7 separate regions of the Homo sapiens genome follow, and regions 1, 2, 3, 4, 6 and 7 are each reported to be linked to region 5. The links are microRNA targets in miRTarBase. Many come from high-throughput screens and were not tested one by one. Region 5 holds a microRNA gene; each other region holds the end of a gene's coding sequence.
The links. The annotated mature microRNA hsa-miR-105-5p reads UCAAAUGCUCAGACUCCUGUGGU and lies in region 5 at 2,658-2,680, opposite strand. An mRNA with a match to its seed (bases 2 to 7 or 8) in the 3' UTR can be bound and repressed. Matches are read on the target gene's strand: a 7mer-m8 pairs with bases 2 to 8, a 7mer-A1 pairs with bases 2 to 7 and ends in A, and an 8mer does both.

Region 1 (4,097 bases), not on the chromosome of region 5:
TCCATATATTAAGTGTACTGTTGTTCCCTTTTAGGAGATTGTAAGAACAACGCTCTTGTACCAGGAACCATTCAAGTAAATGGCCATGGAGGACAGCCATCAAAACTTGTGAAGAGGGGACCTGGAAGGAAACCTAAAGTAGAAGTTAATACCAATAGTGGTGAAATTATACACAAGAAAAGGGGTAGAAAGCCCAAAAAGCTACAGTATGCAAAGCCAGAAGATTTAGAGCAAAATAATGTGCATCCCATCAGAGATGAAGTACTTCCTTCTTCAACATGCAATTTTCTTTCTGAAACTAATAATGTAAAGGAAGATTTGTTACAGAAAAAGAATCGTGGAGGTAGGAAGCCCAAAAGGAAGATGAAGACACAAAAATTAGATGCAGATCTCCTAGTCCCTGCAAGTGTCAAAGTGTTAAGGAGAAGTAACCGAAAAAAGATAGATGATCCTATAGATGAGGAAGAAGAGTTTGAAGAACTCAAAGGCTCTGAACCCCACATGAGAACTAGAAATCAAGGTCGAAGGACAGCTTTCTATAATGAGGATGACTCTGAAGAGGAGCAAAGGCAGCTGTTGTTCGAAGACACCTCTTTAACTTTTGGAACTTCTAGTAGAGGACGAGTCCGAAAGTTGACTGAAAAAGCAAAAGCTAATTTAATTGGTTGGTAACTTGTACCAAAATATTTTACTTCAAAATCTATAAAGCAGGTACAGTTAAGGAATAAGTAGAACTAAGGCTTCTGCTTCCTTGCTGCTGTGGTGGAGTAGGGAATGTTATGATTTGATTTGCAAAAAAAAAAAAAAAAAAAAAAACAAACTTACGAGACACTTCACTTCTTTAAATGAATATATATATATATATATAAATATATACATATATATTTTAAATGTTTGCTATTTATTGCCCTTAGATAGGTTATGCATTTTCACATTCATTTCATTCACTGTTTGAAACGAAAGAAATTGATCTATAATGAATTCCTGATTTATTTATAGAAAAGACAATTCTGCTACACTCTTTAGGAGCATAATATTCCTAGTGATAGAGCATTTCATGTTAAAATGAATTATTTTTGACCAAGTGAGGTACATTTCTATTGATACAAGTCATGCCCCTAAAAGATAGATGTTATACAGAGTAGCAGTGAATTAAGAAATGTTTCCTCTAAAAGATAAATATAAAATTTCCACCATTTGATACCCTAAACAGTTTAATTTTAATTATAGAATGTTCATCTACAAAGTATCTAGAGGAGGCTTTTGCTTTATTCCATTTCTGCCAAACAAGAGAAAATGTACTGATGAAGGGAAACATATCCACATTGGAAAACATTTGACTGTCTAATTTTTCAGACCTTGATTCTTATATCACTCAATCTCTGTTTATTGTGCCAAAGACTGAGAATCAGTGCAGTGGAAAGCCTGTTTTTGACGTCAGGACAGCATACACTTTTCAATATTGGAAAGGCTATATATTCTAAAGAGCAAGTTATTAAAGAGTTATGCTGAGATATATCTTTTTTTGGTACTAATAGAAAATAATGCACTGGTGGGTCCTTTGACAGAGATGTTCTAGAGGAAATGTTTAAGTGGTTAAAGGATTCAAGGAAAATACAGGAAAAAAGGTATGGGATTTGATGTTTACTTGTTGATCTGGATTAATGTCATTTCTAAACTTTAGACATATCTAATAGCCTAAAATGACTTACAAAGAAACGTGTCTGTGTGTGTATGTGTATATATTGATAAATGGGTATAATTAAATATATATACAAACACATACTTATATACTATTACCCAGGTATAAATTCTTTTTTCAGGATTTTTTAGATAGCAGTAGAATAAAAATAATTTTAAAATGTCATACTTTATAGTTTAATTTTAAGGGGGAAATTGGTTATTTTCAATTATTAAAGGTTAAAATAGGCCAAATCACTTTTTATGCAATCATGTTTTATACAGTGGTCTCATTGCACATTGTGTTTTTTCTGCACTTTTTACGGTATCCTTATCATGCTGGTATGTCAATATACACCCTAAAGAAAAACTCCATTTAATGATTGTGCCTTGTATTCTATTATTTTTTGCATCATTAGTAAAATTAAGTTGTCTATTGTAAATGATAACTATATGACTTAGGAGAATGTATTGCTATATGTACTGCTATGGAAAAGGAAAGCAGTTATTTATTTGTTTATGGTACAGTTAGTTATTTTATACCTTAAAAACCAACATACTTACCATTTCTATTGTTTAAAAATTACTGTCCATTTTTTTAAAAATTTAAAGAATGTAGTATTTTCTGAGGACTGGTATGGTACAAAAATGTAATCAAAATTTTCAGATACTACATTTTTAAAAAGTGAGGATGGGGAAAATATGTATCAGCATGACCCTGATGTAGAAAAATAAAGTCTGCAATTGAACCTTGGCAAAATACATTACATAATTATTTCTGATAAGGATAAATATTAGCTGTCATTTAACTGTCGTGAAGAATGAAAAAGTGATACATTTGGGCTTTTTAGATCATTTGTAACTAAATTTGTACAGAAATTCTCCTGTGAAATTAAGTAAACCATTTTCCAGATCTTGACTGCATTGCTGAGATTTTGCAGTTGAAAAATAATTTCAAATTTTTCAGGTTTTTTGTATATTTATTTTTTTCTAACAAATATATTTAACTATAAAATTAAAATTCAGTAGTTAAACTCTTCATAATGCAGAAATGGATGGCTTGATTGTATAGAAAAATGAGTCTTTCAGTTACACCATTCTTGAAAATAATAGTGTATGTTTGAAATTTGTCATTAATTAGTTGCTTTTGAAGGCAATCTATTTGAAATATGTAATTTCCTGATGTTATCTGCATTGTGTTAAGAAAAAAATAATAGGCTATAAAATCAATTTTTGTAAAAAAAATGTACAGTTTTAAGTTGTGTACAGAAAAAGGAAGAGCGTACACAGTCTTAGAGTGGAATATACCTCTAGTACAGTGTATGTGTTAATTCCAACTCAAGCAAAGAAATGAGTATTTACCATCTTTCCTATAACATGTAAATGTATTATTCCTGTTCTACAGACACTGTATATTTATGACCTTATTTGGACATTATTAGACACTGGTTTCTTAGTAAAGCACAGTAACTTGGATCAGATTCTTTGTAACCGAAACACTTAAACATGTATTAGTAATACCAATATATTTAGATTTTATATTTTTATAATTTAGCTTCTATGCATTACAGAAGTTGAATTAAGAAATTTAAGTCATCACCATATTTTTGTTTTCTTTACCACTTGGGAAAATAATCCTCTTTGAGGCAGTAACACTATGTATGTACTGTTAATAGGCCAGAAAGAAATATTGGCAGTTGTCTTAGGTAAGCAATAAAAACATCTCCAATTTACTGAAAGTTCAGAAATATAACTCTTACATGCATGGAAAGTGTAAACCAATTTAGGTATTTCTAAGTACCCAACCCTAGTATTCTCTCCCTCAACTCCAACATTCTCAAGTCCCAGATGAAAAGTTTCAGTGGAGCATTAGTTTAAATATTTAGTCTAATCAGAGACTCACAGCCCTGGGCAATAGATACATAGCTTTTTAAAATTTTATCCTTTGTGACCTGCTATAGTGGCATTGGACTATTTTCTGCATGTATTATAAACTAAAGATTGGCCTTATTTCAATTGTTTTTATTGCACAACTTCACTACAAATTTAAAGACTGCTGGCATTATTATAAAACTGTCTTCCTCCAATCCAAGTAAATAAGTATGTGGAATATTTGTGAGCTGGATTAGGTAACATCTGAGACTTGGGATTGACTAAATTTAGTTATCACTTGGAAATGAATTACATAAGATACAGTAATCAGAGAAAATATCTTTATGCAGCATGTATGTTAACATCTAGAACTGTCCCTCATCTGCAGTGCAGTAGAGGAATCAGACATTTTAAGAAATGTATTCAAATATTTTTATCTTATATGTTAGCAGCATTTACATGTTTTCAGATATGATTTGTAATATAAATTAATTTCTCCAGTTAACAATGTTTACTTCAATTCTGACATTCCATTTTATACATAT
Region 2 (4,000 bases), not on the chromosome of region 5:
CAACCTGGGAAAGATTCTGGGACTCGGGGGCCACTTGTAACCATAACCAAGAGCTGTCTGAAGGCAAATCTACAAGTCAAGGTGCAGTGAAGTCTCCAAGTAAGAAACCTGTCACCCTCTGAAGTGTGTAGGCTTATCTACTGATGATGAGCTATCAAACAAGGAGAGAATACATCAGCGCAGCTCCCGAGGCCTTCTGAGAATTTCACGGGACAGAACTGGGCCAAAAGGAAGAAGACTGTTTGCGGCAGGAGGGTAGCAGAGGAGCAAGTGGTAAACAGAAGACAGATAGAAGGCAGTATTCTTCAGACCCCCATACATCACTGAATGACAGCCCTGATGAGGAAACTCAGGCAAGTAGAGTCTTTTATTGGAGAAGAAGGGTCTTTGCGAGCAGGTGAGGACTTGCCTTCTGAACTGTGCGGCAGGGTGAGCATCCCAGGTGTGCTGGCTGGGGGCTTGCATCCAGCACCCCCAGCAAAAAAAGCCAGGGTGAGCTGGGAGAAAGACGGGTAGTGGGGAGGGTTTACGGCTGCTTTAGAAGAGATAGTTATCACTGAATTACCATATTTCAAATTTTGACATGGGAATGTCTTAAGATCATTATTAGATAAAATTAAACTGACTTTATTAAACAGAGTCACTTCAGGCCTTTTTCTTATGAACAGAGTGATCCTTAGTCGGGTAACATGTCAATGACAGTGCACTCTGTGCCTCTCCTGCATTGTGGGGAGGGCACTTCTTAAGGCAAAGTAAAATTCAGGACCTGCATGAAATCAGTTTTGCTTCCATTTGAGTTCGATTTATGCTATTAATAGTTCTGATCACCAAATTTATAACATTTAAAGTACTGTCTGTTACCCGATGTCTGGTATGTTTACATAAAACGTGGTTCTGCCCAGTAACAGCATAAGGTAAAAATGTGATTTCCCCTAAAATTATAACATCATGTCATCCTAGAGTGTTACCCACCTGGGAGAGGTACAAAAAACAAAGCATTAGATTTCAGGCTAAGAACAGCCAGTTTTAGGAGTAAGAATTACATCGAATAGCCTTAAGAGCATTTAAAAAGTCAAGGCATCTTAAACTTCAGAAATGAAAACAAAACCAAAACAAAACAACAACAAAAACAACCTAACCCAACCACAAAACTCTAGGAGCCAAGGCACTCAGTATCTGCCTGTTGGTTATGTACAAAGCCACAAATGGGAGGTCTTTTCAAATTAATCTGGAAAATCCAAGCACAAGACTCTTAGCTTGAAAAGCCTGACAACTCTGCCTCCAAATCCAGGCAACTGTGCTTCCACTCCTCTTCTTGCTTGCCTTAGGAAAACTTCACTTTAGTAAGATAAGGCAAAACAGAAAATAAAAGAGTCGTTTAACCAAACTCCAAAAACAAACAAAAATAGAAAATAAAAAACCAACTTCCTACAAGTATACTTGTAAAAATATATTTTTAAAGCACCCCTAAGTAAACACCAATCTTGCCCAAGAAAAATCACAGGTTTGGGGCCTATCTGATAATGACTGTCCCGGAAGTCTCTCTTTTTTGAGACAGTTTCACTCTGTCGCTCAGGCTGAAATGCAGTGACGTGATCTCGGCTCACTGCAACCTCCACCTCCTGGGTTCAAGTGATTCTCCTGCCTCAGCCTCCCGAGTAGCTGGATTACAGGCGCCTGCCACCACACTCAGCTAAATTTTGTATTTTTAGTACAGACGAGGTTTCACCATGTTGGCCAGGCTGGTCTTGAACGCCTGACCTCAGGTGAGCTGCCCGCCTTGGCTTCCCAAAGTGCAGGGATTACAGGCATAAGCCACCACACTCGGCCCCAGAGGTCTCTTTTACAACAGCACTAACCAACAGACTTTAGTCCAATATGGTTAAGAACAATGAATCTCTGAAATTTCAGAGTTGGCAAACGTTTAAAATAACGTATAAGAACTTGGGTGAGGTTTTTCTCCCCTATCTCTTTACATACACACCATAAATAAGAACACCCAAGTCCATGTCCCTGGGTGCTGGTAAAGTGTTCTAGATAGTGTGAATCACAGTCACGATAAAACCATTTTCTGAAGGTTTCGAGGAGATATTGGATATGCAAATCAAATGTCCTAAACACAGCAGAAAAGATGACTCTTTGGGAAAGGAGATTCAAAATTCTCTTTTTTTTTCTGTTTGAGACGGAGTCTCGCTCTGCTGCCCAGGCGGGAATGCAGTGGTGTGATCTCGGTTCACTGTAAGCTCCGCCTCCCAGGTTCCCGCCATTCTCCTGCCTCAGCCTCCCAAGTAGCTGGGACTACAGGCGCCCGCCACCACGCCTGGCTAATTTTTTTGTATTTTTAGTAGAGACAGGGTTTCACCGTGTTAGCCAGGATGGTCTCGATCTCCTGACCTCGTGATCCACCTGCCTCGGCCTCCCAAAGTGCTGGGATTACAGGCATAAGCCACCGCGCCCGGCCCCAAAATTCTTTCATAAAGAATGAGACAAACCAGCCAAGCACGTTAAAGTCATTGAGCTTTCGGGGGAAAAATCAGATTTTTCCGGTGACTCGGGGTAAATGTGGGGACTTAGAAAGCTCCCCCTAGAAGGCAAAAGTAGAAGCTGAAAGTGTCCCCACTCTTGACTGTCCTGCCTTGTCAGAACCCTGCAATCTGTGACACCGCACAGGAGCCAGTGGGTTTTGATGACTGGTGTGTTGCTCTCTGCTGGAATACATCTGTGGGGTCAAGAAGCGGGAGGAGGAAATGCCTGTCTCAACCACTAACTAATTTGCCTTTATTATCTTTTCCTGAACATCAGATCAATTGTGGAAGAACATAAAATGCAAAACATGAACTTGCAGAAAACAAGAGCCAATCCCATTTCTCTTCTGCAGCTGCACTGGAAATGTGCGTCAGCTCAGTGTGTCACAGCAGAGATACACGTGGACGGGGAAGCACAGCAGCTTGCAGGAAAGGCCTGGCTGGCAGAGAGCACCCAAAGATGAACACAATGAACAGTGAGGGTCTCACGCGAGGTGGCTGGGGCTGAGTGGCTTTTGGCGACTGATGTCCCACATCTGAGTGGAGAGCAGAGGAGAGACTCCTCCAGCTTCATCAGCACTGGCATAGGCTTGATTCCCATCCATACCCTTTCCAGCACAGACGTGCACAGACTCTCGTGGCTGCCACAGTGCGAAAGCGCGCCAGCCACCACTGCTCCTTTGAGTGAGACACTGGTTGTGTAATCTGAACCTGGCTGGATTTGCTGTTTAAGAAAGAAGTGAAGAGGATCCTTTTATTTTCCCAAACGGGGCCTCATGGAAGTTCCACGTTGCTCCTCCCTGGCCTTCCATCTCCACTGCACAGTGAGCAGAGCTAGGCTTGTCTGTGGCAGCTCCGCCACGCCCTGTCACCTGCAGTCACTAGTAGTAGGGCCCTAGCTTTTCATATCCTAAGTAACTTGGCCACTCTGGAAACAGACCATAGGAACACCGAGGGCTTCCGAACTGGTCAAAGGATATTCCCAAATCCGGTCCACTGTGGGGCTTGGTCATTCCCTGGGTAGATTTTAACTCAGCCCGGATGATCCTATAGTTCTTGCCTCTGTTGCTGTCCCAGTACGTCTGTCCATTGCACTCGTAGTACACAGCAAACTCCATTCTTTCATAAGACTGAATCTTCTCGGGCAAGCTGATGTCGAAGGAGAACGTGTCCCTGTCTGAACCGGCATAAGTGTCCTTCACGTACTGACAAGGAAAGTCTGTGTAGCTCTTCCAGGTGTCGAACGTCATCCTTATTTTCACGGTCTTCTCAAATGCGAGGTTCTGAACCTTCACAGTGCCTGCAATGGCCTTGTCCTTGAGCACACAGTTCTCAAGGCAGACGTGGTCGGCCTGAAGTCGATTTCTAAAGTCTAAGTAATCTGCAGAGGGCTGGGAAAAATCCAGAACAAAGCTCTCGCTCTCTGCTGTCGTCAAGCTCACAATGTTGTCTAGGAGCTCGGTGATGTTGAATGG
Region 3 (4,097 bases), not on the chromosome of region 5:
TCCATTTGCTACTTGAAGATGAAGTGAAGCTCTAAGGTAGGGTAGAGGCAATGAGTTCTTAAACATGATAAGCATCCCTCGTTCCAGGGGTCAGGGGAGAGAAGGGAAGCACGAGGAGGGACTACACTGCCCAGATGGGAGGGAAGGGAAGGATCTGTCTCTGACCAGGATGTCCCTGCCTGCTGCATTTAAGGAGAAATACTTGCCTGCATGTTGGCTGCCCAGGAATGCTTGCTGTGCTTGGAATGGCTGTGACATAATGCATAAAGCAGGGCCTAGGAAGCCTGGCCCCATATTTGTAAGCAAATAGTTGGTATTTCTTGCGAGCTTCTATTTTAAGCCAAGGTATTGTTGATCCTGTGATAAGGACTTAGCAAAACAACTTGCAAAGTGAGTATGTAAATGATGGAAGAAAATGTTGGCATCTGTTTCATACAGATTTTACCACTCACAGCATCAGGTATGCAAAAAACAGAATTGTAACGCTAAAACCACAATATCTAAAATAACTGTTCTAATTGTCAACAGATTCTAAATAAACTAGAAAGAGAACGAGGGCTGGAAGAAGCTCAGAAACAACTCTTGCATGTAAAAGTCTTATTTGATGAAAAGAAGAAATGCAAGTGGATGTAAGCACTCTGGGGCCTGGCTTAATCTGGCAAAGTTCTTCAGACGACTTGGGAGCAAAATGGCTGCTTGAGCTACTCTGTGTCGTTAATTTGTTGTTTGCACATAGGTTCCACTTTGGGCACTGTCTTTTTAAGAGACCAAGGCACATGCACAGCTTTTAGAAAGCATACCAACCCTTGTGCCTGTGTGTATACCGTGGGAACCCTTCTGTAAATAGAGTTGAAGTGGTTGTTGCAAACAGCCTCCTTGTTTACAGAGAATACAAGGCCAGTAAGCGAATGTCAGTATTGTAACTACAGTCTCCACTTAAGCACAATGATATAAGTGGTTTTGTTTGAAAACTACAGCTATGTAGCACTTGTGCTACACTGCACCTCTGCATTGTAAAGGGATACTGCCAGTGCTCAAAACAAAATGTGAAATGAGTCATTTGGAAACAAGGTGGGGGTGTTAGGGCAACCTCGAGGATTTGCAGCATTGAAACTTTCCCCAGTAGTTCTTGGAAAAGCTGACCGCAGAATTTGGTAGTGTACACTTAGCATTTGTGAGTGTGTGTGTGTGTTTAAACCAAAAACTAACAGTGTTGCAACATTGTTGAAAGGGCTCGTGTTTTTCAGTGGTCATCAACTGCACTCCATCAAACTCACCTCCATTTCACCAAGGAGCTCTAAAGTAAGGAGAGTGGGCTTTATTTAAATGAACAGCATTTTAACCAGATACTTTGTCCTAATGTATGTTCCTTTTCTTCATCTGTTTTTTCATACTAAATGTATTTGATAGTGGACATGTTGGATATTATACAAAAAAATCATTAATTCATTTCTGTTCCAAAACCTTTGATCAGAACGATCTGTGGAAGAGTAACTCCATTTCTATATGAGTGAGTGTCTCCTTGCTTTAGATTTCTGGTGAACCCTGTGGTTATGAATACTTGTGTGTGATTTAAAAAAAAAAAGATACATTTTACATTTTATCGAATTGCTGTTCACACTGGAGTATTATATATAAATATATATATTTGAGGCCCAAGGCCTGAAAAATATTAGTATACAACTTGGTATCTTAGTCTTACTATGTACTTTTTGAAAGTATTCCTCGCAGGAGAAAGAATTTAAAATACCCATTTTATTCATGCCTTTCTTTTTAAAGAATTCTCTATCCAGTTATACTGTAGTCTTTTTAGTGCTGATTTTTTAATTCCTGAATTTTTGCTGCTCATGACCAGTTTTAATACCACTGTGTTTTCCTTCTATTAAACCAGAAGAAGTAAACAGCATAATTGGCAACTCTTGAGCTTTTCTTGTGGCAGGCACCTTTTACCCTTGGTGCTCCAAATCCCCCATCTAGGAAAGAAAATTTTTTCAAGTCAAATAACATTGATCACATATTCCTTGAAATCATTTACCAACACTGTATGGAGCATTAGGATTTAAATATGAATTTGTCTTAAAGGCAATTCCTTTTTGCTTCTGTATTATCTGGAAAAGCATGAGAGAGGTGACACCTCAACAAACTGATCAGAGAAAATAAGCAGTTACTACCCTGATAGGCACCTTCCCAATCCTGTTGCTTTTGACCATTGTCTGTCCAACGGACACACCTCAAACAAACAAAACTACCAAATAGATGACAGATCAGAATAAAGGTGAGAGGTCTGGTCCCCATTGAAGGCTGCTACAGTCTTCAAAGAGGTGAAGGAGTTCATAAGAGAACAACAGTAGGAAAGTTGAGAGCCAAGGGTAGGAGAGTTGCCCAAAAGACTTCCCCTACTACTTTAGGGTACTGAAAACTCAAAGGATCAGCTACAGCTTTATCTAAGTATTTACTAAATGCTACATGAGGGTGTCCCTGTCCAGCTTTCTGGCACATGAGTCCTGTGTGGAGAGTTACCTCCTCTTCCAGGGACTGTGCTGTTGGGAACTTTGGGCAAGTCACTTACCTCTTTGTGCCTCAATTTCTGTATAATATTTCTAAGCTACCTCACTGAGGTGGTATGAAGATTCACTAATGTATGTAGCGTGTTTGTCAATCCTCCAGTGAAAAGCACTATCTAGATCACATTTTGGATCACATTAGCCAAATGCAGTAAATGGCCAAATTAGATGTGTGCTGAAGACAATCAGTCACTGGGTCTATATTAAACAGCAACCAGAGCAACAAATGGCAAACAATTTCTATTTTCAAGTTTCTTTGCATATTTTTTTGGTGCAAAACCATTTATAAACTTTTTTTTCTAACACTAGTGTCTACAGCAGCATTCAAAAAAATTCTGTTACCTTTTCTGTATTAGGATTTAAAGTCTATTTCTTATTGTATACCTGATTGAAGCTGTTCTTGGAGATGAATGTTTTAAATGTCTATATCCAAAAAATAAACATTTTGATGTAACTGTGGACTGTCTTTTTTTTTTTTCAATTTTCTAGTTATAATAGTTTTTTTATTCTAAGTGGCTCCGTGGAAATTATTTTTCAGAGATAAGGTGTCACTGTATATGCTGTGAATAAGCAGCTATATTATGTAGTAAGTAAACCTAGTTTGCTAAATGGTGCTAAGGACTGCTCAATTACAGTCCTGGCCTTCTTCACTATCAACTGGGACTTTTGACTATGAACACCTTGGGATAATGAACATTCCACTTAATTTGGGAGACTTGAGCTTTAGCCTCGTTAACATGAAATTATTCCAGCAGAATTCCTCTAAAAGATGTCACATTAAAAAGGCTTCCAATGGGTGTAGACCAAAAAAAATGAGAGCATACTTAGGGACACAAAACACATAATTATTTGGTTAGATCCACAGTAATGGGAAGTAAAGTTAAATACCAACAATGTTTATAAAAGGACCTGAGTTCAAGTTTTATAATCAATGGCCCCCTTGTTAATACAGCCATAGGATTTAATTATTTGCACTTATTCTCTATTCTAACAAAGCCAAAATCAGTAGACTGTCATATTGCTAAATATATGCTATATGGTTGATGTAAAATTAAACACACGATTAAAAAAAAATTAAGCTCTTTAATTATGTGCACACAGATTTTAGAAAAGGTAGCCTTTTGTATATAGATACCTTTACATTCTTTAGGCTGACTTTTAAATTGTCATCTTTTTTCAACTACAGTTTTTGTATATAGTAAACCAGAAGATGTGTATGGACCCTGTTATGGCCAAGCATCTCAAAGATGAAGAGAGAATTAATGATAGTTATATTTCACTCAAAATGCCAAAAAAAAAAATTCAACAAAGTAAAAATTTTAAAACTTGACTCTAACTAGTTCCTTTTTGTTTTACATTCTCAAACCATTGTCAAATATTCTAAATATCTCTGAGAATTTCTCTTTTAATGCTTCACTTGTATAATCTTAAAATCCTGACAGTCATACAATACAGCATGTAGTAGGTACCTTTTCTTGAGGCACATTCAAGTGTTTTGGCAAACAGTAAAAAGTATCTAAATGCCACAGGTTA
Region 4 (4,097 bases), not on the chromosome of region 5:
ATCATCTTCAAGCACAGACACCAACAGCTTCCAGAAATACCTGTACTTAAGAGATTCTTTATTGGAAAAGCCAATAAGTGCCAAACATTTTAGTTTCAGAATGTTGTCTGAAACATCACACTAGCACAGGATGGCTCTCCTTGTGTAGCTGGAACCAAAGCAGGAGATTGAACATACACCTAATTTTGAATAATCCCTATTTTGAGGAAACTAAGAATATACTCAACAGGAATCCTTAATAAATCTCCACTTATATCACTGGCTTGGTATTTTTTTCAGCTCATTCAATTGAGTATGCATTTTATAATACCCAAATGTAAAACTTCATTATTTAAATATTCTAGAAGCTTATATCTCTGTTATTCAAAGAGGCAAGTATGACTGGTTTCTTATTGGCTATGATTCACTACGAAATATTTAACTTTTGGCTAGAGCATCATCCAAATATTCTTTATACATTTGAACTATCTAAATTTTTATAAGTTTCACAAATGCAGAAATTTCTGCAGAGGAGAGAAAATAGCTTTCTTATTAGGGTGAAATTTAAAGAAAAATACCATTTTTTTTAAAAAAAAGAGGATGTTGCCTGACATTTAAGCACATTACAGGGCAGACCAGAGAATGCTCTGCCAAATATGATTTTCTTCTTTTTCAGGGAGAAATGAGTTCTGGTGGCAGAGCGGCTGGTTGGCTGTCAGGTATCACCCAATGGGAATCAGAGAGAGTTATGAGCATAAAGAGTCCTGGATACCATGAACTAGACTCAGTAGGAGGAAGTCAGAGGCTAGTTTGCAGTATTCACAGGTTTCTTCTTGTCAAGAGATCAGGAGACTGGGAAATTAATAAGTTACCTGAAAACTTGGGCAGGCAATTATATACATATATGAATCATTTGAGGGTAAAGGGAACAGAGTTATACAAAAGTTGTGGTGACATCATTGTATATTAATACTACCAGGTAAATGATACTAGAGTTTTTTGAGGATGTTTAAATTGATTGTATTATAGATTAAATGCATGGTGCTAATACTGGCATTGCCAGTTACTAAGACAAACCATTCTATTTAATGAAGAAAGTTTCAAAAGCATGCAGCAGAAATATAACTTCCACTGAAGACAAATAACATGTATTTAAATGGATTTTTAAAAATTTTATTTCCTAAATAATTATTTTTGACTAGAAGGATCTAGAAATTTGTGAAAATGATAGGTTTTTTTTTTTTTTTTAATTGGTCAACTTCATTCTATAGATTGAAGGTGTGACTCAATCCCTAAAATCTGAGATTTGCAACCTATTCCAAACTGAGCACTCAGGATTACCCTCGTGGGTGTCAAGTGCCTAAGGAGAATGTTCCATGTTTGCTAGAATTAGAAAGGGGAGGTAATAATTCTTAGGGCCTAGAGAAGGTTGGGCTAGCCCAATGAATATTTTCTTTTTTGAAGTAATGGATTATTTCTGAATAATTCAATATTATGTTAGGAAACACTTTATTCCAGGTCAGTAGAAGGTTGTCTACCTAAGTGCCCAGATGTTAAATAAGAGTAGTCTGTCCCATAGAACAACATCACATAGCTCTTCAGAAAAGACTTCCAGAAAATCTGAGTAACTTGAATGAGCACTCTTGTTGAAGGAACAAATTCGCAAATGGACCGGACTTTCTAATGAACCATTTGAACAGCCCTCTCTTTGACATCAGATTTCCTTCCCGACATAAAACTGTAAAAAAATAAACTGAATTATTACTTCTGTTACAGTGCCATTTTGCTCAAAATATTTTATTCAGGGATTCATATATAATTACCCACCTAATAAAAGGAGCTATTAGGTTGTAAAGATCCTATCCCTTCCATGCTCTTTTAAAATTATGACCTACTCAAGCTTGAAATCAAAGGCAGAGCTGAAAGGAATAATTCAGCTGAAACTCTCTCATTGGGTTTTCAAGTCACCTAACTGATAAATATGCAAACTAGCTCCCTTTTGGCGATTCAGCTGCATAAACAGGGATTAACTCCAAATGCAGCTGAAAATTCAGAAACTAAAATGCTGCATACAAAATGTTCTTAATTTTAGCTAGTTCCAAGCTGTAGATAAACATGGCAATAGAAGTTTAAAACTGTAGTCCACAGTTTAAGATGCTGCTTTGAAAAGTATCTGCTGGATTTACATGTCGGAAGTGTCAGGTGGCACCTGCCCCTCTGCTTCCCCCTGACTCTGACACAGGTGTAGTGTAAAAGTTTCCCTTAACAAAAGGGTCTGGTGGCCAATGCTTGCCAACACTGACCCTGTAGGCAGAGTTGGCATTCTTTAAGAGAAGGTACTGTTAGAAGCTACCTTTTATTTTCCTTCTCTTCCTGCTCTCAGGGAGTCTGCCATTTCTACGGGATTAGAAGACAGGCGACATTGGCCAGTGCACCATATGACATGTGGAGCTGGCCATTTCACCCAACGCTAGTTGCCAAGGAGAACTCAGGGAGGGATGGGGTGAAGGGGTGGGGGCATTCTTCTGGCCAAACTCCTAAGGAAGATGGCCTTAGTGAAGCTTTGAAATTGTATCACAGTGTGGTATGGCACAAAAGCCACCCAAATTGAAAACTGTCCTATTACAAGCTTAAGCATATAATTACCATGTGTCTGAGAAGATTGCATATTATATCCTCTTTCCAGAAATGTACTGCTGCTGGCAGAATGCCACTAGTTGCAGATTTTTATATTCCTGGACTCCAGACATACATATTAACCAAGGGTGGATTTACAAATACTTGCCAAAATAGGTGAATTTTTAGCCACTCACTAATATCCACCACTTGTGCAAGATGAATGACTGAGTTACAAACATAAGCATTCTCTGCCTTTTGTTTGTTTACTATTTACTTTTTGTGCTGTAAGGAAAACATCCAATCCTTTGGTGCTATGGCATGAGAGATTCCCATGGGTGCTTTGTATGTTTAAGTTGAAAACAAAATAGTGAGCTTGCACTGGTTTGCCATGGCATGGTACAGGCTTAAATAATGCACTTGCATTTTGTAAGACTAGACCTACACATTAAACAACAGGCCTTGACAAAGGAAAACATAGGTATTAGTTATGACAGTGTGGTCACTGCAGTGACAAAGGCCCATGACTATTCTAGCAGCTTAAACTTTGACATTGCAGTGAAAATGCATCTTTGCTTTTGTTTAGGGAACTCATAATCATCATTTGACAATTCCTGATGCCTGTGAAAGAAGGAATGCTTATTCCTTCTGAACTGCTTCAGGATCTTCCTTAACTGAGTGGTCCTGATGGGTGACCTGTACACTGGTTAGAGTTCTTGGACACAGGTGTGCTGTTTATGGGTAATTGGTATGCTGCAAAGTTCCCGGAAAATTCACCTCATCCATTCAGAAATACATGTTAAAAGGCTGAGCCTGTGATGGCATTAAGCTGCTTCATGAGTCCTTCCAAACTTGCCATTTGTTCACTCAGATCATCCTGTTCATACACCTATAAAGAGAATGAGAGCCAAGAGTTAGTAACAAATATTGATCCATTTCTTTTATGAAGGCCGGGGCCACAGCTAGTTGGGGTGCTACGTATTCCCAAGTCTGACCTAGGAGACCACAGCCAGGGCTGTCCTTGGAATATACTCACTGAATGAAGATGCTGGTAATAAAAGGGGATAATAAGAGATTGCATATTGTTTCACCCACTCCATCTCCACCTGTGACAAGGAAGATGTTTCAGAGTCAAAAAGATTGGGTTTCAAATCAAGTTCTCCCAATTATTAGCTGTGTGGTCTTAGACAAGTGAGTGCACCTCTCTGATACGTAATTTTCTTCATCTATAAAATGATAATGACATCTATTTCATAGGCTATTCTGAGCCTCCTGTAACATGTTTAGTACCCATGATAGGGTCTGGCATATGGTAGATATTCAATACATTAGCTCCTGTTCCTCTTACTAGGTTAACCAAGATATGAACAGAATATTTTTTCTCTGTATCATGACATAGATACATTTTTTTTTGTATGTGAGAACTCAGCGGGCTTTGCCTTGGCCAATGAAACGTCTGGAGATTATGACTTTAGTTTGTGTGTGGAAACAAAATTCATGCC
Region 5 (4,097 bases):
TTGATATATGAAGGAATGTAGCAGATGGCAATGATGCAAAAGGAGATCATGAATACCATATGATCACAATGTACCCTAAGACAACTGCAAAATGAGCTCTTGACTATGTTATGAGAAGATGATATAGAAGGAGACAACACTGATGGAGGGGAAGAATACCTCAGTGCCGGACCTAAAAACCATCATGCATCAGCTAATACATAGTCCAATACACAGAAGATGGCATTTTCGGTGCAGGATCAAACTATAATGGCTCATGCTTAGAAAATTGTGATTTTTTATATATGGTACATGGAAGGGAAGCATGGTAAATGATAAAAAAAAATATAGGAGCAGAGAGACATCGTTTAGAGCTTGTTCACATGGATAAGATTTGAGATTAAAAAAATACAACACAGGAACAAAGATTTGGGGGCAAAGTAAATGGCAATAGTAAAAAGTAAAACAACACAGTATATATTTAAATAGCAATGTGGTATGAACAAACATTCCTGGTGTTTGAACTTCTAATATACAATCAGTTTTCAACTTCTTTGCCTTTGGTTTGAATGTCCTCCCATAGCTCAGAGTAATTTGATCGTCTGAAGCCTTCTTCTCTCAGCTCGTCAAAGTCATCAATCAGATAACTATAAAGTGTATGCTGAGAGTAAGGACACAGAGCTAAAGGATGTGATACAGAAACTGACAGCAATGACAGGAAACCATAAAAAGGGAATTCAAATGAAATAAATTTGATATATAAACTTATTTCAATAACATGAATGATGGCTATCTCATTACAACAGTAGACACAATTATGCCTTATGCAGAAAACCATGGTATGTGAGCACATTAGATAACTATGGTGATGCACATACAAGTATGTTTGAGGAAAAATTAGAAATGGTAGGTCAAGAAAGCCATAGACTGGTACTTACCGAGAGGGGCATGGTACAATATTTTCAAAATAAGATGGCATGAAATAGTCCAGGAGCAGATGGCAATGGCCCTATAGATGACATCAAGGCAAATGGTTGTACAACATTTGTGCATTGTAAAGCCACCACCAGTGCTTAACCATTAGACTATAACACACACCAAGATAATCCCAGAACATAGGCTGCCAACCATGATAGAGAATGAAGAAAAAATTCTAGTATAATAACGATGATAACGATGATGAGGATATTATTAAAAATTATAATTATTTAGAACTTATTACATACCAAGCACTAAGCACTTTAAAAAAACAAGCATATGAGGTAGATGTTATTATTTTAGGGAAAAACAAAAAAAAGTGATTTGTATATAATGCAGTCTACCCTTATTATATATCAGTGGTGCTATGCTACCTCTAATGGATATGGTAAATTAAAAAACACATGCTTAACAGAGGAATTAATGGCTATATTGCTGATAGAGACAATAATTCCTGTTGCATAAATAAATATATAGTCCATTGCCAGACATTCTTGGTGTATGAGCAGTCACAATAGTCAGAACATTTGACCACAGGCACACTCAGATAATCCTGCAATATGAACTGACATTCAGGATGGCAGAAGCACAGGCAAACACGATACTGTCAAAATTAACAAACTGTTATTCATGATACAGATGATTCCATCCTTTTATCAGTTCAGGAGTAGACAATGACAACTGCATTTTTACACAACCATAGTGTATGAGCGAAAGTCTATAGTACAACCCCATACACAATATATGAGCAGAAATTCCTTACGCGTGCTCAGTCTACCATGGAGAATGAGCCAATACTTACACATAAAAGAAAACAGACATGACACAAAGAAAATAGCCACATAGTTGAAATTGTACAGATGATCACAATATATAATCGAAAAGCCACAATACGGGAAAGAATTCCTTGGTTTAGGAGGAGATGGCAATGGTAGGAGACACCATGACATGCGCTCCAATGATCACATGGAAGAAAAACTACCACTGGTGTTTGAGAATTTAACCACAATACACACCAATATACACTGAAAGGTGAGCTATCAATTATGATACAGGTACAGGTGGAAATAGAATAGTAGTCAACTACTGTGCTATTCTTTCTCAGAAAGACACGATGAATAATGAAATACAACACAGCAATGAATGACTTTGCCAAAGGAGTAAAGGGTATATGTGCAAAAGGAAAAACCAAGGTATAACATCAGACGACCATGCTGAATGGACAGCCACCACCAGTAATTTAGCATGTGACTAAGGTACACAACCAGACATTCTCAGAATGCAAGCTAAAAGTCATGATAAAGAATAAAGAGACATAATACAAATAATATAACAATATCAGCAAATACTTATCATTTATATGTGTCAGGCACTAATCTAAGCATTCTACATGTGCATCTTTGAATCCTCACAACTCTATGAGGTATTATTATTTATTTTACAGTTTAGAAAACAGAAACAGAAGGGTGAAATGACTTCCTCAAGAATTTCAAACTATTAAATAGGAGAACTGGGATTTAAGTCCAAGCAGTGAGCATTGTGCACATACACTGATGGTGCCATGCTTCCTCATATGGATGTGATACAAGATTAGAAACACAGAGCACAGGAACAAATGGCTTTGGTCCAGAAGCAGACGGCAATGTAGCAAAAGTAGACACCGTAGCACATGCTCAAACATCCGTGGTGCATGAGCAGCCACCACAGGAGTCTGAGCATTTGACCACGATGCACACTCAGGTTCTGCAACAGAAGCTGACATCCAATATATAGGAGTAGATACTGAGGACGAAGAAGGAGGCAAACACACTGTATGACAAAAAATCATGGTGCACAAAATTATATTCATGGTACAGAAAATTCCATTTTTAGTACAATGTAGACAACGATGGTGCATTTTCACAAATCATGATGAATGAGCAGAAGACCATAGCTAAAGGGCATAAGCACATTCATACAACCATGGAAAATTAGCCAGGGCTCACTTAGAGCCAAGAGACATCTTATGAGAAAATAATCATAAGTGGAGACCTCATAGATGGATATAGTACAAGATCAAAACATCTCAATACATGAATGATTATTTCAAATGTAGGTGGCAAAGGTGCATAGAGGACCCACCGTGTAACATGTTCAGACAAAAGTTGATGAAAGCCATTAGTGATATTTGACTGTTTGATCTTGACTTACACAGGTACACAAAAGTAGTTTACACTATTACGTAGCATTTATGCCAAAGGAGCTAAGAGGCATAGATAGATACAGCACACAAACTTGTTTTCGGAGAATAAAACCATGCTGTGGTGCTTACTTAGACAGATATTGTGCCTTATACAAGAGCCACGGTACAGGGGTAAACAGCTTTGTCCATGAGTAGATGTCAGATATGTCAAAAGAGACCTGACACCATATACTCAGATGACCATTGCATGAACAGCCACCACTAGTATTTGGGCATTTGACTATGATGGCTACCTACACAATCCCACGACATAAAGTAAAAGAATGATACAGGAGCAGGTAGACATGAAACCATGATTACCAAAACGGATATGGTTGGTGATTAAAAATCATTATTTTCTTTAGTCTGGGAGAAGATGGCAATGATTAAACGGGTGAAGTTATGATATATGCTGAAACAGCCATGTTGCATGAACAGCCATCACATCATAGGCATTTAAGCATTTGACTGATGTACAATTAGAAAGCCCAGTGACATGAGATAACATCTGTCTTTTTGGAACAGATAAACAATGTGCAGAAAAAGGCAGAAGTGATCTAAGAGTAGAGAGTCATAGAATATGAGTAAATACTAAACTCATATACACGATGCATAAAACACTATTTCCCTGTAAAGCAGTAGACAATGAAGGTTCCTGCTCAGAAACCATGGGGTATGAGCAGACAAGCATGCTGCATGCTCAGACAACCATGGTGCATGAGCAAAAACCTACAATATAAAAGCAGGTGGGTGTGATACAAGAGTGAATAACACAATGAGGAATATGCCCAGATGGACAGGACATATGAATAAAGGAAACATAACACATGAATACAACTTATTTAGGCAAACAGCATATGACAATGATGCTGGAGGAGATATCATGGCACATACTCAGGCAATCATGGTGCATGAGCAA
Region 6 (4,000 bases), not on the chromosome of region 5:
AAACACTGTTGAAGGCACAAGACAAGCTTCACTGCCCACTTTGTCTAGGATTTTCTGTGCCTAGACAGGAGAAAGACACTCTGATATCCTACTGCCTTTCATTAGCCAAACTGCAAACAAGTTACCCAAAGACCCAGGTCTTGTCCGTAAGATGTTTATTGCTATATATTTCTAACCTGGCCAGGTACAGAAAGGCTTTCCAGTAATACACGTAATAAACCTCAATGTAATAAATCCTCCTCTGGGGGAGCAGAAATGAGATGAGATCAGCACACAAAAAGCATAATGGCCCTAGTATAGAGTAATATGCAACTGTGTTTAAAGCAAAGCTAAAATAATTATGGCTGCTGCTCTAATTGAGGAGTGATATATTAAATATATCTTTCAGAGCAGTTCACAGATCTATATGAAAATCTTTGCAACAGAACCAACAGATAAATGTTCAGTGACAAAAATGTATGCAAGTTTAGTCTATGCATAATTATTTTATGAATATTACATAAAATATATTTGACTTTTAGAAACCTAATCTTGATTTAAAAACTAGTTAAAATTTGTAACTTTTCTGAAAACATTACACAACACGCTTATGAAACTAACAGAATATCCCATAGCACGTGATCAAAACAGAAATACACACCACCACCTTGTACCAAATCCAGAATAAAAATATAATCTCTTCTATTTCTTCCCTTTAAAAAAATCTACATGCAAAGATGACAAGAGACAGGAGAATGAGTCAGTGTGCTCAGCCTAAGGCAATGATGCTTGTTTTGCAATGCCCAAATCATTTCTAGAATATGCTCTTTCATGGTACACTGATAAAGAAAGTCTTAGTAAAAAACCAAGTGATTTCTAATAGCTCTTTCCCATTCAAGTGAGGCCAGCTCAGCTAACTCACATGAAGCCATGCTGTGACCCACAAAGAACATGGGTGTGCTGGAAATGAAATGCCACTGGAGCACTGAAGTACCTTGAACCTCCCTAATTTGTTTTCTCAGCTGCCTCGTTAACTTGCTCCAGGTCCTGGTTTCTCTCTCGGCTTTCATCTAACTTATTTCATATTCATCTCCTCTTACCCACTAAACCAGGGTTCTGTAACTCAAGTAGCTCTTGAAATCCCCCTTTCTTCCAAGAAGTCCCCCCTGACTTGTTGGAATAGTAGTCCTTGAACTCCCTCACTTGGGTATGGGGTTTTTAGGCCTTTACCTTCCACTCTGAGCCATAAAAGCACTACCGGTTTCCGTGTTGCTACTGTTTATTAGCCTCTGGAATTGATGAACTTTCTCTGAGCTGTGACCCAGGTGGATGGATGTCAGAAAGCATATTCCGCTGGAAGGAAGAGCTGAGCAGTAGTGAAGTCAAGGACATACAGAGCCAGAGTGTGAACATGAGTCCTGCTACTTACTGCCTTGCAGTCTTACGGAAGTCACCAACCTCTCTCTAAGCCCTGATTCCTTCCTCTGCTAAATGGACGTGGCGGTAAGCTAGCCCACATGTATCATAAGGCTGTTGTGAGGATTCAACGAGGCACTTCATGGTGTGCCTCGCACATGGTAAGTCCCCAGCAAACAGAATTAGCAGGACCTGACAGATGGTTTCTGACAATGTGTTTACCAATACAGGGTTAACCAGAATGTAAGTATTTTGGGTGTTAACAGTAGAAATATGAAAATGTTGAAATAAAGACACTTAGGGAAAAATGTCAAGTAAATTACAACTTACATTAAAGGCAGATTCTTTATTGGCTGAATGTGCTGTAGTAGATATTTAAAATATCACAAACATTCATGATTGCAGTTTTTAAACTTAGCTCACAGTTGAGTTAGATACAACAGTTAACATACTTAGGAAAGACAATTCTTAACAGCTTTATCAAGCACATTTGTGAAAGATTAAACTTTCATTTCCAGTTACCATGATGTCCCCCCATACACCAAATGAACCAACACATTTATTTATTTTAAATAATGGAAACTGTACATGGCTACACTGTGCTCTAAAATTACTTGCATTAATGAGGACATTAATTTTAGCATTTAAAAAAAGAGATTTAAAAATAACCATAGAAAAACTTGAAAACCCTGACAAGCCGACTACAAAGAGAATTCCTCTCTGAAAATTTTCAGATGCGACGGTATGAGGGAGTTGGGTGGGCCGCTGACTCTGAGAGAAGTCCCGGTGACCTGAACCTATTCCAGTGAAGCCAGTCAGCAGTGAATGTGGGGCAAGTGCATGCGGCTGGTCTACAGCTCCCATTGCCTGGTGACCAAGGAGCATCCTGAAGTTTCAGAGAAGAGACTGTGTGACAGCAGCATTGTTCCAGCTACTGAGCAAGATCCTTCAGCAGGTAAGAAGTGGCAGAGACAGTCACCTGCTGAAGGAGCGGGCAGGGAGTTGGCCGTCCACGCGGAGCCTGGCCTTTCCGTTAGGGGACCCTGAAGTCTGCGACCGCCCCGCCAACACCTCAGAGTGTAACACAGTGCCCGTTACACATTCACACTCCATCACAGATAACACACAGGGCCTCAGGGACTGCAACACGTGCATGTGTAGTGACGCACGACAAATTAAGAGTGAGTGAGAATGAAAGCTCATGCTTAGCCCTGTGAAAAATAAAAATCAGATAGCAAAACGCAAAGTTAAATCACAGACACCTGGACCACAAATAATCTACCCCAGTTGTAATATGTATTTTAATGGAGACCATAAATTTTTCCAAAAACCCGCTTGAATTAGAAAACTTAAGGCCATTTATATGAAATGAGGGTTTTAAGCACAGCTGTACAGTTTAGGACAGTAAGAGCTCCAAAGATGTCTACATAGCTTTCCAAATCTCGTATCAGTCAGTCTCTCCGTGTGTCGTGGGAGCTGCCTGCGCTTCCGTGAACGGGACACTGAGAAATGCTTCAATATGTGCCACGCCATTCCAGAAAACTCCCTGCAGAAGCAGCTCTTCCTGCAGCACTCAACCTTCTGCTGAGATGCAAAATATATTTTAAAATGTATTTTAAAGTCATACAGGATCTGATCTAGTAAGAATGGCAAAACAAATACTTCCTGGGCATTTCAAATGAGGTCATTTTGGTTGAAATGTATACCAACAATTTTCGAAGTCAGAGGAAGAAAAAAGAGAAAAATGGCAAACCCAATGTTTAATACACCAAATACCTTTAGGGTACTTAGAGAGTGAACAGTCTTATTACGTGTTATTTTCCTGGACTTCTTTTATGTGGCAGATATTTATGTTTTCATCATGGTTGAAGAAGCTGCTTGGAAACAGGTGAGCTGCAAGTGCATGCTACTCTTGAACTTGTTCAGGAGCTCTTCCAGTAACCTGCAGGACGGAGACACTTGTTTTACAGCCCGACAGATGGGGCGGCCTAGCAACGCAAGAAAACACCAGGGGAGCCAGTGCCCGGCTCTGCCTGGGCTTGCTGTGTGGAGAAGGCAGCTGAAAAGTTCTACCTATGGATCCTTAACTCAGCAAAAGAAACACATCAAAGAAGTTGATCAAATAGGATATACTGATAACGTATTTATGTTTGTACAGAAACATCTCCTTCCTATCCCCTCCCAAGATTAGATTCCTCCCTAATACAGACTGATGTTTGGGCCTATTCTTTTTTAGAAATTCAACTCTAAAATAATTTACACACCTTCAAATTCACTTTTTGTTAGATGGTTCTATGAACGCTGGCAAAGCCATACCGGAGTGTAACAGGCTACAGCACGTGGCATGGCTGCACCCTTTCCCCTGCTGCCCCTCTAGTCAGCCTCTTCCCTAACCCCATCTCCCAGCAGCCACTGCTGACTTTCCCTTCCTCTCATTTTGTATTAACAGGTATTAGAGAGTGGGGAGCGAAAGCAGTGAGTTAACCACCAGGGCAAGCAGGGTTAGGGGCTAATTCCACTAGGCAAATCGCTTTGCTGCCTGATATCGCAATCTGTTTCCCCAACTGATGTGATACAGTCATCTAATTTTTTTTCTTTTTTTCAG
Region 7 (4,097 bases), not on the chromosome of region 5:
CTTCCCATTATCATTGAATTAATCCTTATCAGAAATTTGGGATAGAAAGGGGCCTTTCCTTGAATGTCCTATAAGCTACTCTCTTCAAGTTACTTGATGGGATAATGAATGGAATCTGTTGCTTACTGACTCCACACCTATGTTAAGCCAAGCTTCTCTTTGTGTGTACAGGTACAACAGAATAGCTCGGGAATGGACTCAGAAGTATGCGATGTAATTAAAGAAATTATTGGATAACCTCTACAAATAAAGATAGGGGAACTCTGAAAGAGAAAGTCCTTTTGATTTCCATTTGACTGCTTTCTATGAGCCCACGCCTCATCTTCCCCTGTGCACATGTTTACCTGATACAGCAGTGCTGCGTGTTGTACATACTTGGAACAACAAACTAGAAATACTGTACTTCTGTACCAACATTGCCTCCTAGCAGAGAAGTGTGTGTGTGACAAGCCAGTTCTACAGGCATTACCTAGGTGTGAGACTAAAAGCTTTTCTTATTGACTTAAATTTGGATAACAGCAAGGTGTGAGGGGGGTGGTGGGTATGGTGTGTGCTTGGATGGGAAAGAAAAGGCTCCACTCACCTATAGGAGATTATTTTTAAGTGGAATCCATTTAAACTCAAAACAGTTATGAAAAGCAAGGTGAAGAACATGAAGCTGTGTCTGTATTCATTTTATTCCGAAGGAGCTACGTCTTAGGTGAAAGTTATGACCAACCAGATTAAACTCTACCCACATCCTGCATTTTAAGGTCTAAGTTTAACTGGTCAACATTTAAATGGATTGGAGCTATTAGTACATCAAGTGTGATGGGCTTTGTTCCCAACTCTTTTACATCTCCCTACCCCTTCAACCTTTGGCCTTTCAGCCCTTCTTTCTCTCTTCCATATTCTTTGGTTTGTATGTGGTTTCTCAGTTAATACATAGCTAATAGCTCTTATTTTTCTTATGTTTTTAACCGCTTAGGTCTATTTGGATGTAAGGGTGAAAATTCATTTGATGGAAATACTTGTGTATATTTAAAGACCCAATTGCTCCTCTGGAGCTTGTACTTTCAAGAATGATTAATCTGTGTAATAAACTGGTTACTACAGTCATTACATATAATTTTGTGTGAATAGGCTTTTTCATTTTTAAGAAGTTTGTCTAGCTGAGATTAGTGGTGGATTTTCTCCCACTTCTGAAATGTTCATTTATACTGGTTGCATTTTAAGATCATGAAACAATTCCAGTTACATTGTAAAAAGGATATCTTACGAGTAATTTTATTGAACAAGTTAGAGGCATAAGCTTAAGAGCATTTCCATGAAACAACACATGCAGCATTCCAGGAACTTGATTGTTAAATTCAATAAGAAATTTGCTTTATTAATGAAACTAAGCTGCATTTCATCAAAACCTTGTGACATTCCCTTGGTACATAGGACATAAAACACAGAGGCATTGCTATTTGGTAAGTTAAGCTTCTGTGATTGTAATTATAAAAGAGCAACATTGACCAAACCTGGGAAACAAGAGCACAGTCTTGTTTGGAGAGTCTACATAATTACTTTGCACTAACATTTGCAGGATGTTCACACAATTTTAAATTGTACTGTATGTGGCTTTTTGAAGTCTTCCCTTGACCCTAGTAAAATATAGCTTGAAACTTGTAAACAACTGTGTTTGCCAGAAACATCATTCATGTGAACTAGGCAAGTTACCTTTTTTCCCCCCTTCTTTTCCTAATTGTAAACTAGGCCAACCTGAAAGCCATGGCTGATGCTCTAGCCATCAGGTTCTTTCAAATGCATCTTTACACTCTTGCACAAAAGTTAAGGAATAAATGTCCACTGCTTTTGGTTTTAAACTTGTTCACCTTGTCTTATCTCTCACTGTCACTGCTCCTCCACCTTGGAACTTGTGTGATAAAACCCAAAACCTCTTACAGTTCTCTTATAAGCATTTCAAGCATCTCTTATTAGCATCCTTGACTTTGCAGAAAAGGCTTAACTGTTAACAGTTGTGGGGAAAGGAGTTAGAATTTAGCTTAAGCCTAAAATCACCCTGTATTCTCAGTATTATGGGCAAGTGGGACTTCATCTTTTTTTTTTTTTTTTTTTTTTTTTAAGAGAGGGACAGGGTCTCATTCTCTTGCCTAAGCTGGAGTGCAGTCGGAGTCATGACAGCACAGCTCACTGCAGCCTCAACCTTCTAGGCTCGAACAATCCCCCTACCTCAACCTCCCAAGTTGCTGGGACTTATGGTACATGCCACCACACCTGGCTAATTTTTAAATTTTTTTTAGAGACAGGAGTCTCACTATGTTGCCCAAGCTGGTCCTGAACTCCTAGGCTCAAGTGATCCTCTTGTCTCAGCCTCCCAAAGTGCTGGGACTAGAGACAGCCACCATACCCAGCCTTCCATCAATTATTGGCTTGCTATTAACTACATACTGTTGACCGTGGGTCAGTTGCACAGATCCTGAAAGCTCATTCTGTATTTGCCTGTCATCTTAGAGAGCAGCCAGCTTATTACCATTTATTAGATCATAATATGGATATTTTCACAAGAGTGTTCTTAAGTATTTTTAAGTGCCAAATGAAAGCCATCCTCCAGGTGTGCAGGTGCCAATTGAAGGGGTTTGGATGGTCACAAACAACATTAGGCCCTTGAATGGGGTTTGGTCTTGCCCATTTGAGTATGAAGCTTCTTTGGTCCAGTCTGTGTATATGTGCCTGGCCAGAAAGAAAGCCCAGTGAGAGAAGCCACCTTTCCCACTCACCAAAAACAACAACAACAACAAAAAATCCCTCAGGGTTGTTTTCATCTGGACCACATTGCTCTTCACAGAAGTTTCTATGACTTTGTCGTATGTAAAATCCAGTCTGTAGCAACCTTGATTATCTTGGAAAAGTTACAGGAGAACGTCAAGTGTATGGTTTCCTTTTGTTTGCTTCTTAATAGCCCAAAGTACTTTGTCAAGTTAAAGCTGGGGCAGTGTCTTTTGGTAAAATGAAGTCACTTCAGATACTTATATGCTTTGCTATTGGCGAATCAGTAGTCAAAGGTATCATTGTCCTGCGAGTTTATGCACTTTGAGTAGTACAGAGACTTGGAAGGAGGGCGGTAGGGGTGGGGAGAGAGAAGTTAGGAAGGTCTGTGAAGAGAAGGAAAAGGTAGTTGTCAGAGAGAGACCCTTTCTCTACACTAACCTAGCAATAGAGGCCTTCTTTTTCCACTTCCAACTGCTAAAATACTCTGCTTTCTGAATCATTCCTCTTTGTTTCAACAAGTTATTTTGAGACCTGGGTAGCTTGTCAGGAGAAATGGATTATTTCTAAATTATGGCTGGAATGCCTATAAACTGTCCCTTGTCTGTAATTAAGGTGAAACTCTGGCTTTGTCTCTGTGTGCTGTATGGCACCCCTTAACTACCCAGGGTAAGTTTTGAAGAGGAGAACTCTCAGCTGGGCCCTGTGGCTCATGCCTGTAATCCCAGCATTTTGGGATGCCAAGGTGGGCGGATCACCTGAGGTCAGGAGTTCAAGACCAGCCTGACCAACATGGAGGAACCTCGTGTCTACTAAAAACACAAAATTAGCCGGGCATGGTGGCACATGTCTGTAATCCCAGCTACTCAGGAGGCTGAGGCAGGAGAATCGCTTGAATCCGGGAGGCGGAGGTTGTGGTGAGCCGAGATCGCGCCATTGCACTCCAGCCTGGGCGACAAGAGCAAAACTCAGTCTTAAAAAAAAAACAAAAAAAACTCTCTTCTCATTCCCAGGTCTTCAGGATTATAAACACATCTTTCCTTCCTTCCAAATCAGGAGTAAGCATTTTTATTACTCCTACAGAAAACTGTAACTAGTGTTAGGAATCCATCTCCTTTTGATTTCCTCATTTTCCCTTTATGAAACACTATTTCAAGTGATGGGTTATTTTGGTGAGTGATGTTAGGCAGGAGAAAGCAGGTTTGTTTTTTGTTGTTGTTGTTTGGAGACAGAGTCTCACTGTCGCCCAGGTTGGAGTGTAGTGGTGCGATCTTGGCTCACTGCAACCTCCACCTCCCAAGTTTAAGTGATTTTCCTGCCTCAGCCTCCTGAGTAGCTGAGAT

Region 1: miRTarBase lists PHIP as a target of hsa-miR-105-5p. Seed matches in the 3' UTR shown: 7mer-A1 at 1,195-1,201 and 7mer-A1 at 1,334-1,340.
Region 2: miRTarBase lists PPP1R3B as a target of hsa-miR-105-5p. Seed matches in the 3' UTR shown: 7mer-A1 at 2,105-2,111.
Region 3: miRTarBase lists PLXNC1 as a target of hsa-miR-105-5p. Seed matches in the 3' UTR shown: 7mer-m8 at 1,169-1,175.
Region 4: the mRNA of DCC is a reported target of hsa-miR-105-5p. Seed matches in the 3' UTR shown: 7mer-m8 at 2,013-2,019 and 7mer-m8 at 489-495.
Region 6: miRTarBase lists EXOC2 as a target of hsa-miR-105-5p. Seed matches in the 3' UTR shown: 7mer-A1 at 3,070-3,076.
Region 7: the mRNA of UBE2D2 is a reported target of hsa-miR-105-5p. Seed matches in the 3' UTR shown: 7mer-A1 at 290-296 and 7mer-A1 at 995-1,001.

Annotation. Positions count from the first base shown.
Region 1 is chr6:78,937,268-78,941,364 of GRCh38, reverse strand. PHIP (PHIP subunit of CUL4-Ring ligase complex) reads left to right here. Exons shown (of 40, transcript NM_017934.7): 40 at 35-4,097. The coding sequence ends at 672. It also overlaps a transcript of IRAK1BP1 not described here. Among named protein-coding and RNA genes, the nearest start is that of IRAK1BP1, 72 kb to the right of the region's middle.
Region 2 is chr8:9,137,388-9,141,387 of GRCh38, forward strand. PPP1R3B (protein phosphatase 1 regulatory subunit 3B) reads right to left here. Exons shown (of 2, transcript NM_024607.4): 2 at 1-4,000. The coding sequence ends at 3,407. Among named protein-coding and RNA genes, the nearest start is that of PPP1R3B-AS1, 2.0 kb to the right of the region's middle. RefSeq lists an enhancer at 3,102-3,601.
Region 3 is chr12:94,304,653-94,308,749 of GRCh38, forward strand. It overlaps PLXNC1 (plexin C1), which reads left to right. Exons shown (of 31, transcript NM_005761.3): 31 at 529-3,023. The coding sequence ends at 633. It overlaps CEP83 (centrosomal protein 83), which reads right to left. Exons shown (of 17, transcript NM_016122.3): 17 at 3,046-4,097. Among named protein-coding and RNA genes, the nearest start is that of PLXNC1-AS1, 130 kb to the left of the region's middle. RefSeq lists an enhancer at 1-561 and a silencer at 1,176-1,275.
Region 4 is chr18:53,529,951-53,534,047 of GRCh38, reverse strand. DCC (DCC netrin 1 receptor) reads right to left here. Exons shown (of 29, transcript NM_005215.4): 29 at 1-3,484. The coding sequence ends at 3,395. The region is part of intron 2 of LOC124904304; the gene reads left to right. Among named protein-coding and RNA genes, the nearest start is that of LINC01919, 36 kb to the left of the region's middle.
Region 5 is chrX:152,389,608-152,393,704 of GRCh38, forward strand. MIR105-1 (microRNA 105-1) reads right to left here and starts at 2,692; the gene lies at 2,612-2,692. The region is part of intron 1 of GABRA3 (gamma-aminobutyric acid type A receptor subunit alpha3); the gene reads right to left. MIR767 (microRNA 767) reads right to left here and starts at 3,922; the gene lies at 3,814-3,922.
Region 6 is chr6:483,428-487,427 of GRCh38, forward strand. EXOC2 (exocyst complex component 2) reads right to left here. Exons shown (of 28, transcript NM_018303.6): 28 at 1,727-3,337. The coding sequence ends at 3,244. Among named protein-coding and RNA genes, the nearest start is that of IRF4, 94 kb to the left of the region's middle.
Region 7 is chr5:139,626,585-139,630,681 of GRCh38, forward strand. It overlaps UBE2D2 (ubiquitin conjugating enzyme E2 D2), which reads left to right. Exons shown (of 7, transcript NM_003339.3): 7 at 172-1,850. The coding sequence ends at 217. Among named protein-coding and RNA genes, the nearest start is that of CXXC5, 20 kb to the right of the region's middle.